Linked DNA regions of Homo sapiens. The protein of the gene in region 1 purifies or fractionates together with the protein of each later gene. This does not show direct contact. Each region holds a gene or a part of one and is shown on either strand. Other genes may lie near its edges.

Region 1 (3,500 bases):
TAAACATAAACTCAGAACTGTGCATGGTGTAGAACAAGTCCTCAACAAATGAGAGCTACTGCTCCATGTCAGGACAGGAATATCAGAAACACCACATCCTTTCCTATCTGTGCACATACACAGCACACACACACGTGCATGCCTGACTACTGACATGTGTATAGGCCTGTACTGTGTGAATATGTGAAGTTCTTATGTTGAAACACACAAAACGGGATCCAATTTAAGGTAATCTGTTTTTTCATGTATCAAAAAATTTGCATATAAGTATAGATCTCTCACCATTTTAGTGGCTAAAATACTATGCTTCTATATAGATATACCATACTATGTACACTGTGCAACTGTTAATCATTTAGATTGTTTGCATAATTGTTTTGAGCTGTATTTATAGGTTATCTAGTCCAAAAGCAAGTCAAATAACGATCAGAAAAGCAGCAGTCCACAGATCAAACCAAGACTATTTTCCATCCTTTTGAACTTCAAGTTAGTGAAGTGGTTTATTCAGCCCACTCAAGTCTAGTTATGATTTAAGTCAGACCATATAATTCAATACCTGCACATTAAAAACAGTGACATCATCATTTGAGTACAAATTTTATTTAACAAAAAGGTAACATGATTCTTCCAAAATAAAAATCACTACCACCTTTAAAGCTTCCATTCCAGCCCTGCAGATATGTATGCACGTTACTGTGCTGTCAGCCCCTCACACATTCCAGGTGGTCCCTGAAGGTGGGGCTTTGGCACTGCAGGGATGCAGGGAAACCTCAGGTGAAAATGCACATCCTAAATTCCTTTTCCATTTCCACATTCCAATCAGTGAAATGTGGCATGACAGGGAGGATCTGTGAGGTATGTTCAGGGTAGAATCCCTCAAAGACACAGGCTTTCATCATCATACATGGTCCAGCCATGAATCTTTGTTTTTTTGCGGGGGTGGGGGCATGAGTCTTTTTTCAACAGGTTTGGAGGGATGATCGTAGGTCACAGATGAGCCAATAACTGGCCTGTCCACGAACGTCACAGCACATAGTTCTGGATCATCACTGCTGCAGGGTGCCCACTCCAGTTCCAGCACGGTGATGGTGTTTGGGGCCGAGGTCATCAGGATGTGCTGGGGCACAAACAAGGTCAACTGAGGGCCCCGGGCTGGCCAATAGCGGCCAAGGTTAAAGCCATTAATCCAGACCTGGCCCTGGAGAGAGAGAGACAGAGAACCATCAACCCCAGATGCACCGAAAGCCCTGAGGAAGGTGGGGGCCCTGATGTAGGGCAGGCCAGCAGCAATGGAGGAAAGAAATGCCCCCAGAAAGGCGAGGCTGACAGCCAGGCCCATGCCAGCCTTGGTTTTAGCTTCTTGCTGGGATAACTGGCCAAGGTGGGAAGAAGGTGGATGCCCCCATCCACCTTCTTTGGGGCAACAAAAACTTGCCCCAAAGACCCACTCCTGCTTCAGGAAAATACAGGTTTGGTCCCTCTGACGGGCTTCAGTGGCCACAGATGTTGGTACCAGAGAACAGTGTGGAAATTTCTGAATTTCATCCTGGTTCCCAGGTGCTGCCTGTACCCACAGACCAGCCTCTCCCTGACTTTTCTGTACACAGAAGACAACTGCTGAACTGCTTCCTTAAATAGATCTTTTCCTTCTTTGTTCTCCTTTCCCAGAGGCAGGTCTTGACCTCACTATCTGCTGTACACCTGGTGAACACAGGGAACAGAGGACTCCAGGGCCTGCATCCTGAGGTCAGACAGGTACCAGGAGTGGTCCCCAAAACAACCCCTCAAGAGGGATAGGGGGGTTTGGGGTGAGGGAGAGGAAGAGGCTTATCCAGTTGGGTGTCTATATTACTGCTATGTTCTAAGGACTCTTACAGGCACCCTCAGAGTTAGGGTGTGGACTCCATGTTTGGTTCAGGAGCAGAGGTGATGCTATAGGTTGCATAAACAATTTCTGTGAGTAGGGGAAGCTGCTTCCCATAACAAAACTGAAAGTGGAGGATAAACTCCTAAAAAACAGGGACCATGTTTAGGTCTGTCTACACAGCCTCTCTGTATGTGCTAAAATTTGCTCAAAGGGGCTGAGTGCAGTGGCTCATGCCTGTAATCCCAGAACTTTGGGAGGCCAAGGCAGGCAGATCACCTGAGGTCAGGAGTTCGAGACCAGCCTGGCCAACATGGTGAAACCCCGTCTCTACTAAAAATACAAAAATTAGCCAGGTGTGGTGGCACATGCCTGTAATCCCAGTTACTCAGGAGGCTGAGGCAAGAGAATCACTTGAACCCAGGGAGGCAGAGGTTGCAGTGAGCTGAGATTGCGCCACTGCACTCTAGCCTTGCGCAGTGACAGAGCAAGACTCCGTCTCAAAAAAAAAAAAAAAAGATTTGCTCAAAGCTCAAAGGCTAGGATCAACAGCTGGCTGAATAGATGGACCATTCTATTACAAAGAAAGAAAGTGAAGATGGGGAGATCACATACACGCAAAAGAAAGAGAAAATCTGGGAGAAGAAAGGAAAACATAAAGGGAGAAGGAAGAGGAAAGAGGAATGGAAGAAGGGAGGGAGGCAGGAAAGAAACTGTGACCTACAATGGCCCAGATATCCTAGGAGACAGCCTGGAGGAGGCCCAGCCATGGCTGACACCTGCTGAGCCCTAATCCTCATCACGTTCTGCAACACAACTCTGCTGCTCACCCCAGGGCTCCTCAGTCTTCTTACGTTTGGGTATTTTTCAGCCTCCAAGTGTCCCCTTTACTTTAGATCCTTCTGAATTTCCTACCTGAGTTCGTATCTGTGTCCTGCCACTTACTAGCTGTCTGACCTTGGGCAGGTCTCAACTCAATTTTTCATACCAGTCATTGGGGACAATGATGATGAAGGAACAGTGTGTGGCCTGTAAGCGGTAGCACTCCTTACATGATTAAAGTGAAAAGATGTTGGTGTTCCAATGCCTACAAAAGAAGGGGGTCCGTGATTAAAAACCACCTGTCTGTTGGATTAAGTCATTTAGAAAGAGGACGACAGTTTCACAGTTCTCAGAACTATTTCACTCTTGTTTTTACCCTGGGATATGTTATCTCATTCCATCCTAAAAGGTATATACAATGACAGCTTTAGCAGGTTTTTATCAGCTTAAAATCTGCCGGTGCCTTGTTTTTGCAGTATTAGAGAACAGTAGCACTTTACTTTTGCGGTCAAGGGGGAAGACAGAGAAGTGGGAGGGCATTACGAGCAGCAGCCAAGGAATGGCACGCACCACACAGGCTTCATGCTATGGTCAGGACACAGGCCAAGCCAACTCTTGACCAAATCGCAGGTGAACAAAGTGGAGGTTTGGTCCTTTCTCAAACCTCAAGTTCCATTTCATAAGCATCCAAGAGATGGGCCCTCACATGCCGGGTGGACTGTGCACCTGGTAGGTAAGCTGGGAATTGTTTTCCCTGGATCCCCTTCCCTGGATGGTTCTGGGTTAGCGTTGGTCAGAAGAGGCCCTTGCTTGA
Region 2 (3,500 bases), on another chromosome or scaffold:
CAAAAGCCATATGCAAAAAAATAAAATACCTAGGAAAACACTGACCAAGGAGGTGAAAGATCTCCATGAGAACTACAAAACACTTATGAAACAAATCATATATGTCATAAATAAACACAAAAACATCCCAGGCTCATGGATTTGGAGACTATCATTAAAATAACCATACTGCCCATAGTAATCTGTAGATTCAACACAATTCCTATCAAATCACCAATGTCATTTTTCAGAGAACTAGGAAAAACAATTCTAAAGTCCATACAGCACCAAAAAAGGGCATGAATAGCCAAAGTAATCCTAACCAAAAAGAACAAATCCAGAGGCATCACATTACTTGACTTCAAATTATACTACAAGGCTATAGTAACTAAAATGGCATGGTACTGGTACAAAAATACGCACACAGATCAATGGACTACAATAGAGAACCCCAGAAATAAAACCACATACTTACATCCAACAGATTGATCTTTGACAAAGCTGACAAATATAAACAACAGGGAAAGGACACCCTAATTCAATAAATGGTGCTGGGAAAATTGGCTAGCCATATGCAGAAGAAACTGGATCTCTGTCTCCCAGCATATACAAAAACTACCTCAAGATAGATTAAACATTTTGGACATTGGCCTAGGCAAACAACTTATGACGAAGACCCCAAACACAAATGCAACAAAACCAAAAATAAACAAATGGGACTTAACTAAAAAGCTTCTGCACATCAAAAGATAATCAACAGGGCAAAGAGACAAACTACAGAATGAGAGAAAACATTTGCAAATTATGCCTCCGACAAAGGACTAATATCCAGAATCTACAAGACACTCAAACAACTCAACAAGAAGAAAACAAAGAACCCCATTAAAAAGTGGGCAAAGGGCCAGGCGCACTGGCTCACGCCTGTAATCCCAGCACTTTGGGAGGCCAAGGCGGGTGGCTCACAAGGTCGGGAGATCAAGACCATTCTGGCTAGCACAGTGAAACCCTGTCTCTACTAAAAATACAAAAAATTAGCCGGGCATGGTGGCAGGCACCTGTAGTCCCAGCTGCTTAGGAGGCTGAGGCAGGAGAATGGCGTGAACCTGGGAGGCGGAGCTTGCAGTGAGCCAAGATCGTGCCACTGCATTCCAGCCTGGGCGACAGAGCAAGACTCTGTCTCAAAAAAAAAAAAAGTGGGCAAAGGACATTAAGAGACATTTCTCAAAAGAAGACATACAAGCAGCCAACAAACATGAAAAAATGTTCATCACTAATCATCAGAGAAATGCAAATTAAAACCACAATGAAATATCAATCATCTTACACAAGTCTGAGTGGCTATTACTAAAAAGCTTAAAAAAAAATAGATGTTAGCATGGAGGTGAAGAAATTGTAACACATATATGGGTGGCAGCAATGTAAATTAGTTCAACCACTATGGAAAACAATATGGAGATTTCTAAAAAAAAACAAAAAACCTACCACCAAGCCCCAACTCCAACATTAGGGATTACAATTCAACATAAGATTTGGGTGGGGCACAGATCCAAACCATATCATTCCGCCCCAGCTCCTCCAAAATATCATGTTCTCACATTACAAAATACAATCATCCCTTCTCAACAGCCCCCAAAGTCTTAACTCATTCCAGCATTAACTCAAAAGTCCAAAGTCTCATCTGGGACAAGCCAAGTCCCTTCCACCTATAAGCCTATAAAATCAAAAACAAGTTAATTACTTCCAAGATACAATGGGATTATAGGCATTGGGTAAATAGTCCCATTCCAAAAGGGTAAAACCGGCCAAAAGAAAAAGGCTACGGGCCCCATGCACGTGCTAAAACCCAGCAGGGCAGTTATTAAATCTTAAAGCTCCAAAATAATCTCCTTTGACTCCATGTCTCACATCCAGGGCATATTGCAGCAAGGGGTGAGCTCCCAAGGCCTTGGGCAGTGCCACTCCTGTGACTTTGCAGGGCTCAGCCCACGCGGCTGCTGTCAAGGGCTGGCAATGAGTGGCTGCAGCTTTTCCAGGTGCATGGTGCAAGCTGTCAGCGGATCTACCATTCTGGGGTCTGAAAGATGGTGGTCTTTCTCACAGCTCCACTAGGCAGTGCCCCAGTGGGGACTCTGTTGGGGGCTCCAACCCCACATTTCCCCTCTGCACTGCCCTAGTAGAGATTTTTCCATGAGGGCTCTGCCCCTGCAGCAACCTTCTGCCTGAACATCCAGGCTTTTCCATATATCTGAAATCTAGGCTGAGGCTCCCAAGCCTCAATTCTTGGCTTTCAGCACCTGCAGGCTTAACAGCATGTGGAATCTTCCAAGGGTTTGGGCTGGCACCGTCTGAAGGCCTGAGCTATATCTGGGCCCCTTTCAGCCATGGCTGGAGCTGGAGTAACTAGGATGCAGGCAGCAGTGTCCTGAGGCTGGCAGGGCCCTGGCCCAGGAAACTGTTCTTCCCTCCTAGGTCTCTGGGCCTATGATAGAAGGAGCTGCCTTAAAGGTCGCTGAGATGCCTTGGAGCCCTTTTTCCCATTGTCTTGGCTATCAGCACTTGGCTCCTCTTTACTTATGCAAATTCATGCAGTCTGCTTGAATTACTCCCCTATAAATGGGTTTTTCTTTTCTACCACATGGTCAGACTGAAAATTTTCCAACTCTTCTGCTCTGTTTCCCTTTTAAATGTAAGTTCCAATTTTACATCATTTCTTTGTTCATGAATATGAGCACTGGCTGCTAGAGGCCAGGTCACATCTTGAACACTTTGCTGCTTAGAAGTTTCTTCCACCAGATACCCTAAATCACCTCTCTCAAGTTCAAAGTTCCACAGATCCATAGACCAGGGGTACAATGCCACCAGTCTCTTTACTAAAGCATAGCAAGAGTGGCCTTTACTCCAGTTCCCAATAAGTTCCTCATCTGCGGTCATTCTGAGCCCTCCTCAGCCTGAACTTCACTGTCTATACCACTATCAGCATTTTGGTCACAACCATTCAACAAGTCTCTAGGAGGTTTCAAACTTTCGTTCCTCTTCCTGTCTTCCTCTGAGTCCTCCAAACTGTCCCAACCTCTGCCCATTACCCCATTCCAAAGTTGCTTCCTTCTACAATTTCAGGTATCTTTATAGCAATGCCCCACTCCCAGTACCAATTTTCTGTATTAGTCCATTCTCACATTGCTATAAAGAAATACCCGGAACTGGGTAATTTTTTTTTTTTTTTTTTTGAGATGGAGTTTTGCTCTGTCACCCAGGCTGGAGTGCAGTGGTGCAATCTCGGCTCACTTCATCCTCTGCCTCCCAGGTTTAAGCAATTCTCTGCCTCAGCCTCCCAAGTAGCTGGGATTTCAGGCGCCCACCTCCACAACAGGCTAAGTTTTTTTTTTTTTGTATTTTTAGTAGAGACGGGGTTTCACCATCTTGCCCAGGCTGATCTTGAACTCCTGACCTCGTGATCCATCCACCTCGGCCTCCCAAAGTGCTGGGATTACAGGCGTGAGCCACAGTGCCCAGCCGGAACT
Region 3 (3,500 bases), on another chromosome or scaffold:
AATCTTTGGATTTTTATTAACATATTATTTCATCACTGGGAAAGCTGACCTATGGAAAGAGAATGGTCCTCAGAAGCAATTTAATAAATGAACACTGTTATTCTTCAAGTGATATCATGGGAAACTAGCAGATATTAAACAGTTAATACACAAAATATTAAAGAAATTACTTACAGGTGCCTTTTTGTCGATTGGCTTTATAACAAATTTTTTGTCATTAAATGAAATATTTCTGATTTCACTCCAGGGAAAACCAATTTTAGGTGTTAACCTTAAAAAATGAAAGCATCTCCTTAATTAAAGGCAGGAAACAATGAATAAAATTCCTGTTTAGGACCTAAACTGACTGAATGACCAATCTTAAGAGTTCCAGATTTTCAAAATGTATTAACTTATTCATAACTACAGTTGACCTTATCTTTTAAGGGGAAAACTGATAAATCATATAAAACAAACAACTGTCCAAAGATTTCATAAATGTGTCATGAACCTTAAAAGCAGTGTATTTTCCTAAAATTATCTAAAAAAACTACCTGGTGACCCAAGTGTAGAACTGAGCCTCCTGGGGTTTGAACTAGCTGTTCAGTTTTTATTGTTTGGATTCAAGCTACAACTACAGTTTAAATATGTGTAAGAAGTGGGAAGAAAAAAAAAGGCCTTTATAACTTCTCATGTGAATTACGGGCAAGTTACTGCAAATAAAAAAACAGTACTTCCTTCCTGTGTTTAATTTGAAAATGTCTGGATATTCACGAATATACTAAAAATACTTAATTTTCAGTATATTTTGAAAGAATCTTATGGTATATGAATTATATCTCAAAAATTTTAAACACTCACATACATAAATATTTGGATAAATGATAGAGATGGAATTCAAACTCTTGAGACTATACACAGCAGTTGACTCCGTTTTACCACCCTACACACAAAGATATAGGGAATCATATTGGAATAAGTGATTTTGTTTCTGCCTTTTCATGTATTTTACTGTTTCAGACTACCTATCAAATGCATCACTATTGTCCTATTGTCCTAATAACTAAGACTGAGAAATGATTTTGACACCTATACTGGCCAGAAGACATCTTTTAGCCAGGCTTCTGACAACACAGCATGAATTTTTACCTATTTATATTCCTTTTAGTTCTCAAGCAGAGTAGGTACTGCAGCACAGCAGAGTCTTTTCTACATAAAACATTCTTTACTCAATAAGCATATTAGAGGACCCTCTAATGGCCCCTGATATAAGTCAAAGTAACATGCTTAAAACGGAGACTGCAGGAATGCAACATAGTATTTTAGAGAACACTATGCTACGTTTATATGCTACTTTGAAAAATTCTAAAGCAATTGCCTCATATAATTCTCATAACACTCTTGTGAGGTAAGCCTGGAAGCTAATACAATAACTTTTTTAACATTTAAAAAAATTGCTCCAATATGTGCCAGAACCACCACCACCAAAAAAATTAAGAAGCCAGGCACAGTGGCTCACGCCTGTAATCTCAGCACTGGAGAAAGCAGAGGCGCAAGAATTGCTAGAGGCCAGGAGTTCAAGACCAGCCTGGGCAACATAGCAAGATCCCATTCTCTAAAACAAAAGAAAAAGATTCAGTTTACAAAAATTAGTCTTGAAGTCATTTTTGCTTTTCAAAAATTTCTCTTCTAAATGATATAACCTTCTAACTTGCTTTGTAATAAAAACATGAGAAGATATTAGGGTAAAAATAGTAAAATGCTCTTGTTTGGAATCACATATGCTTTGAAATTAGTATTTTATTAGATATCTGTAGTAATAAAAATTAAAATTCTGGAGCCAACCTAGAATAAAGAATAATGCCTTAGGAAAAGGCATTAATTACTGGCATAGACTTGCATGCTTATGTGGTATGGTAAATAAATTAAAGTCTAAGACAATTGAGTTATTAATCCTGAAAAGTAAGAGTCTGATGTATTTTATATTGCATGTGTATGTGTATAATATACCGTCTCTATATAGTATTTACCCATGTATTTGTATAGTACATATACATGTATATGTAAATATACATATATTATACATATAATAAAATATTGATGAATTATATATGTATAATAAAAAACTATTTGGTCAATTTCAAGATATAATTACAGTGTTCAATATGTGTAATACAGGGATATTCTATTGTATTAATGTCCAAACATATTTAAAACAATTCCTATATATAAATGTTCAAAAAAATCCTCTAAGATGTGATAGACATATTTATTAAATCCATTCTCTCATTGCTCCTGATTTCTTATGTATGTTCAATTTCAATCTATTTGTCAAGCATAATAGCATTTTAAAGAATTATTTCTCACCTATCGAGGGAGCAAATTTTAATTAAGTTACTAGACATAACTCACAAGAGCTAAAAGCAGCACAATTCAAATAAAAGTCAATCATCTCATTTGATAAATACACTGAAAAGTAGAACTCTGAAACTGCAAGGTGATAAGAAAATGGAGGTAAAATATCTACAAGTCTATGTGTCATTAATTCATCTTTTAGTTTGAAAATAGTAAGGGTAATCAAGACAAGAAACTACTTTGAAAAACAGGACATAAGATTAACGTCATTTAGACCACTGAACAATGACTAGTTCACTATGCAACTAATTTACTTACTTGTCGTCATGCTCATAAATATTCAGACCCAAAGCATCAACACCTAGCCACAATTCAGTTCCTTTTTTATTTTTTATTTCAAAATAGTTGACTCCATACATTTCTAGATCTTGTGCAATCTTCAGGTATTCCATCATAGAATCCTCCCTGTTGAAATAAAACTAAATGTAATATATTTAAGTAGGAGCATATCAAACTAAAGTTGCAAAATACCTGGAATTAAAAATTAGTACTTTACATAAGTCAAACAATCTTTTGGAAATAATGTAATAATAAATGTTACGACATGAAAATACTTTGAAGGAAAAAAGAAAACATAGAAAATAGCTACCCAAATACCTTAACATTCCTCTATGTTCTTCATGCCAGTTCTGTATTCTTTCTTCCCACTGTTCTTTTGTTAGTTTGTGTTGTTCCAATACACTAAGAGGACCAAAAAAAAAAAAAAATTATAATGACTTTAAGATTCAAAAGCATACACTTTAAAAGTAAAGAATCCTTTCAGTAACTTGACTGTGGTAGTTGTCAGACAATTAATACACATGATGAAATTGCATAGAACTAAATTACATACACACAGAAATGAGTGCAGGTAAAACTGATGTAATCTGAATAAGGTGGCTAGATTGTACCAATGTCAATATCTTGTTTGTAATATTGTACTGTAGTTACACAAGATGTTACCATCAGGGAATGCTGGGAGAAGGATACCAGGGATCTCTTTTTTTTACAACTGCATAATAATCAGTAATTATCTCAAAGTTAAGTGTCTAGGATCCTTAAATTCCTTGAAATAATACTTGCTCCATAAAGTGATTACAAAGATAGCTTATAGGAACCCAAACAGT
Region 4 (3,500 bases), on another chromosome or scaffold:
TAAGCCAGAATTTAAAAGTACATACAAACCTCCATACTCATTTTCTCCGAGTTGTTTCTAAAGAACGGACTATACGTTTCTTCTAAGCTGTTAAGCACCTCTGGTTCACACAAACGTCCTGTTTCATATACCCAACTACTCTGCATATCAAGCTGCTTGGCAGCATGAATACTATTCTGCTGCTGTTGAAATTGCAACCTGTTTAAATGAACACCACTATCTGCATTTCTACTTGCAGGTGGTCGATAAATTTCAATAGAAGGGCGAGAAGAACCATATGTAAGTGTCACTGTAGGTTTTTTCTGAGATAAGGGATTCTCCTGCACAAAGTTGAGGTCTTCGTCAATGAGATCATCTGGTTCTGGCTTAATATCAATCACATCTTCAGAGGGTGCTGGCTCCCTCAAAGGTTTCACTGTTGACATTAGTCGGGTTGCAGCTCCATCATCGTAAGTCTGTCTATTTAAAAGAACAACAAAATGTATTACAGCCAAATTAGGGCAATTATCACCAAATCTTTAAAGAATGTTTACTTGAAAAATTTCAATGAAAAAACTGAGGATACTCCCTTTACATATTCCATTCAAAACTGCTTTGAAATTGCACTTTCTTTCAACTTTGATTTACTAAATTTGTGATAAAAGATAATCATACTTAGATCTTATCCATTATTTTATTCAAAAAACTACTCACGATCACTTCATTGTTTCTAAAAATTGCTGAGAACAGCAAACTGAAAGATATAAAAACTAATATAAATGTCACATACACAGAGCCATCTGCCCCCAGCAGGTCTACACCAGACTCTTACCTGACATTTGTGGTTTTTGACTCCTGCGAACTTGTAGAAACTCTGGAATCTCTTTTTTCAGGTCTCGCGCTAGGAATGGCAAGTGGTGGCACTGCAGCTTCATGCCTCCTCTCATCTCCCCGACTGAAATTGCTCTTGTTTGAAGGCACGTTACTATCAAAGATGTTGGTATCAGAAGACTTCAGACTAGAGGGTTCTGAAAAGAAAAATACAGTCCTTTTAATCTATTTTTATTTCTTATTTTTATTTATTTATTTATTTTTGAGATGGAGTCTCGCTCTGTCGCCAGGCTGGAGGGCAGTGGCGCGTTCTCGGCTCCCTGCAACCTCCAAATCCCTGGTTCAAGCGATTCTCCTGCCCCGGCCTCCCAAGTAGCTGGGATTACAGGCATGTGCCACGATGCCTGGCTAATTTTTGTATTTTTAGTAGAGACGGAGATTCACCATGTTGGTTGGCCAAGATGGTCTCCATCTCCTGAGCCCATGATCCGCCCACCTTGGCCTCCCAAAATGCTGGGATTACAGGCGTGAGCCACCGTGCCCGGCCATCTATTTTTATTACTTTAAGTCGTTTCCTTCCTCATCACCAATTCAAAAGCAGTATGTTTATTGTAGAAAATTTTAAAAATATAATAAAAATCACCAATTATCTCAAAGGTGATTTTTCGGGGGAAGAGCATATATACACATTTTTTAAAACATGTATCTTATGCGTGTATATTCTGTTATTCTTCCACAACATTATTTTTAATAGTTAAATATTATTCCACACATGGTAATACAACAATTTCGTTTATTATGACTGAACTTTTAAATTGTTTTCAATTATAAAATACTGAAATATCCTTGAGGCTAAATCTTTGCACATATATGTAATTATTTCCTTCGGATAAAGTGCACTGCTCCCTCTCCCACACTTAAATTATCTTTGAATTATGTTAAATTTACTGCTCTTAAGTTCATAAAAGTATGTGCTTTCTAAAAAAGTTCAAATGAACCGTTTTGAAATTGATGGGTTTTTCCCAAAGCACTATGACTTTAGAAAGAAACAAATCATATGCCATAGCAAGCAGAAATTAAAAAAAAAAGTTATGAATCTTACCAGTTGTAACAGAGCGAAGTTTATCTAATACACCATGAAGCCTGAGGAAAAAAACAAAAAACAAAAATAAACCTTCTGTTAAGAAAGATTTCATTTCAACTGTCACTCTAAATTTATGACATTATATTCAGAGATAATTTTTTAAATTTTTTTATATTTTTATTATTTTTAAATAGAGATGGGGTTTCACTGTGTTGTCCAGGCTGGTCTTGAAGTCCTGGACTTGAGAGAACCACCTGCCTCAGCCTCCCAAAGTGTTGAGATTACGGGCGTGAGCCACCGCACCTAGCTGAGATAAATACTGATAAACTGTATTTAGTGAATAAATGGTATGAACTTTCAAACTTCACATTTTTAAAAAAGGGCTTTGTATAAATCCTACAGAAGTCAATAAAAAATTGTATTTTTTTCTTCACTGTTTTCAACATCTAGCCTCTGCAAAAATATGGGAAAGAATATCATCTGACCAGTCTTAGTCTACAAAATATGTCACCCTGTTTGTAAGTACTAAAGATTTACTGTAGCTTACAGTAAAACAAGTATCATAAACATGTAATATTGCTTATTATTACCACCATTTAAGCAGCTTATATTAACTGCTTAAACTAGATGGTGTCTTGGACAACTTAATTCTGAGAGGTTAAAACAAGTTATAATCTCAAACTATGCTATATCATTTCACTCTATTACTTTCAAAACTGATGCTGTAAGGCTGTAATCTTGCTTGTAACATAACCTGTTTTGGTAGTTATAAATGAGGTACTTTGCCTTACATCCCTTCCCAGTACCTCTCAAAATATGCCAGAAACCTCATGTTTCAATGAGAACCCTAGTCACATGCTACTGTCCCCACGGACACAATTACTTCAAGGCTCCAAATAATCACAATAGTCTGTTTGGGGCTGGTGTTAATGAACACTAACTTAAGAAAGCAAAGTGCCAAAATGGGGACATCACCCTTTGCTTCACTACATGTTAAAGAACTCAATTTATGGCCAGATGAGAATGTTGAATTAATTTGGTTTTAAATTCATTTGGTAGTCTGTTTTAAAAATCTAAGTATTCTATCAAGTTATCGGAGAAAAGGATCTACTCGGTCGCTTTAGAAAAAAAAATAGTACTCACAATAATGGTAATTTTCCCAGTCAAAAGACCCACAGTCTTTTTTTGTGGGGGGCTGGGAGGGAATAACCTCTGGGGACAAATTGTAACAAATGGGTTGGGTCACCCACAGTGAGGCAGCAGTGTATCATAACAACTGATGACCACTATACAATGTTCTTCAAATTTGTGCAATGTATAAACCCAGAGAATTCTGTGCAGAATTTCAAGACGGTTGATAAGCATACAGTTGCCTACTTGGGCAAAAACACCTTGAAGACGACCTTTGGTATAAAGGCAAGAACTTAACCAGGCTCATCTCCCCACTCAGTGCCTCCTCTTGCACTCAAATTCGGCAGGCCACTTGCTCACTTCTGCTACATCATCACCTTTCACGGTAACTGGTAGTTCCTAGCCTGAGAAGCCTAATAAAGTATTTCGTCTGTCTATTCTCAGCTACATCATTATCCTCCAGCCCTCATCCTCA

What was found.
Region 2: the proteins of GLB1 (region 1) and DNAJC3 purify together in Homo sapiens (co-immunoprecipitation; one large-scale study listed by IntAct). This does not show direct contact.
Region 3: the proteins of GLB1 (region 1) and RDX fractionate together in Homo sapiens (co-fractionation; one large-scale study listed by BioGRID). This does not show direct contact.
Region 4: the proteins of GLB1 (region 1) and ZC3H14 purify together in Homo sapiens (affinity purification with mass spectrometry; one large-scale study listed by BioGRID and IntAct). This does not show direct contact.

Annotation. Positions count from the first base shown.
Region 1 is NC_000003.12:32,996,147-32,999,646, forward strand, and holds the end of GLB1 (beta-galactosidase isoform a preproprotein), read right to left. Parts: intron 1,199-3,500; coding exon 899-1,198; 3' UTR 471-898; downstream 1-470.
Region 2 is NC_000013.11:95,683,639-95,687,138, reverse strand, and holds part of DNAJC3 (dnaJ homolog subfamily C member 3 precursor), read right to left. Parts: intron 1-3,500. UniProt on the Homo sapiens protein: Involved in the unfolded protein response (UPR) during endoplasmic reticulum (ER) stress.
Region 3 is NC_000011.10:110,255,115-110,258,614, forward strand, and holds part of RDX (radixin), read right to left. Parts: intron 3,076-3,500; coding exon 2,992-3,075; intron 2,800-2,991; coding exon 2,653-2,799; intron 293-2,652; coding exon of another isoform or gene 272-292; coding exon 175-271; intron 1-174. UniProt on the Homo sapiens protein: Probably plays a crucial role in the binding of the barbed end of actin filaments to the plasma membrane.
Region 4 is NC_000014.9:88,569,537-88,573,036, reverse strand, and holds part of ZC3H14 (zinc finger CCCH domain-containing protein 14), read right to left. Parts: intron 1,954-3,500; coding exon 1,913-1,953; intron 1,008-1,912; coding exon 812-1,007; intron 460-811; coding exon 30-459; intron 1-29. UniProt on the Homo sapiens protein: RNA-binding protein involved in the biogenesis of circular RNAs (circRNAs), which are produced by back-splicing circularization of pre-mRNAs.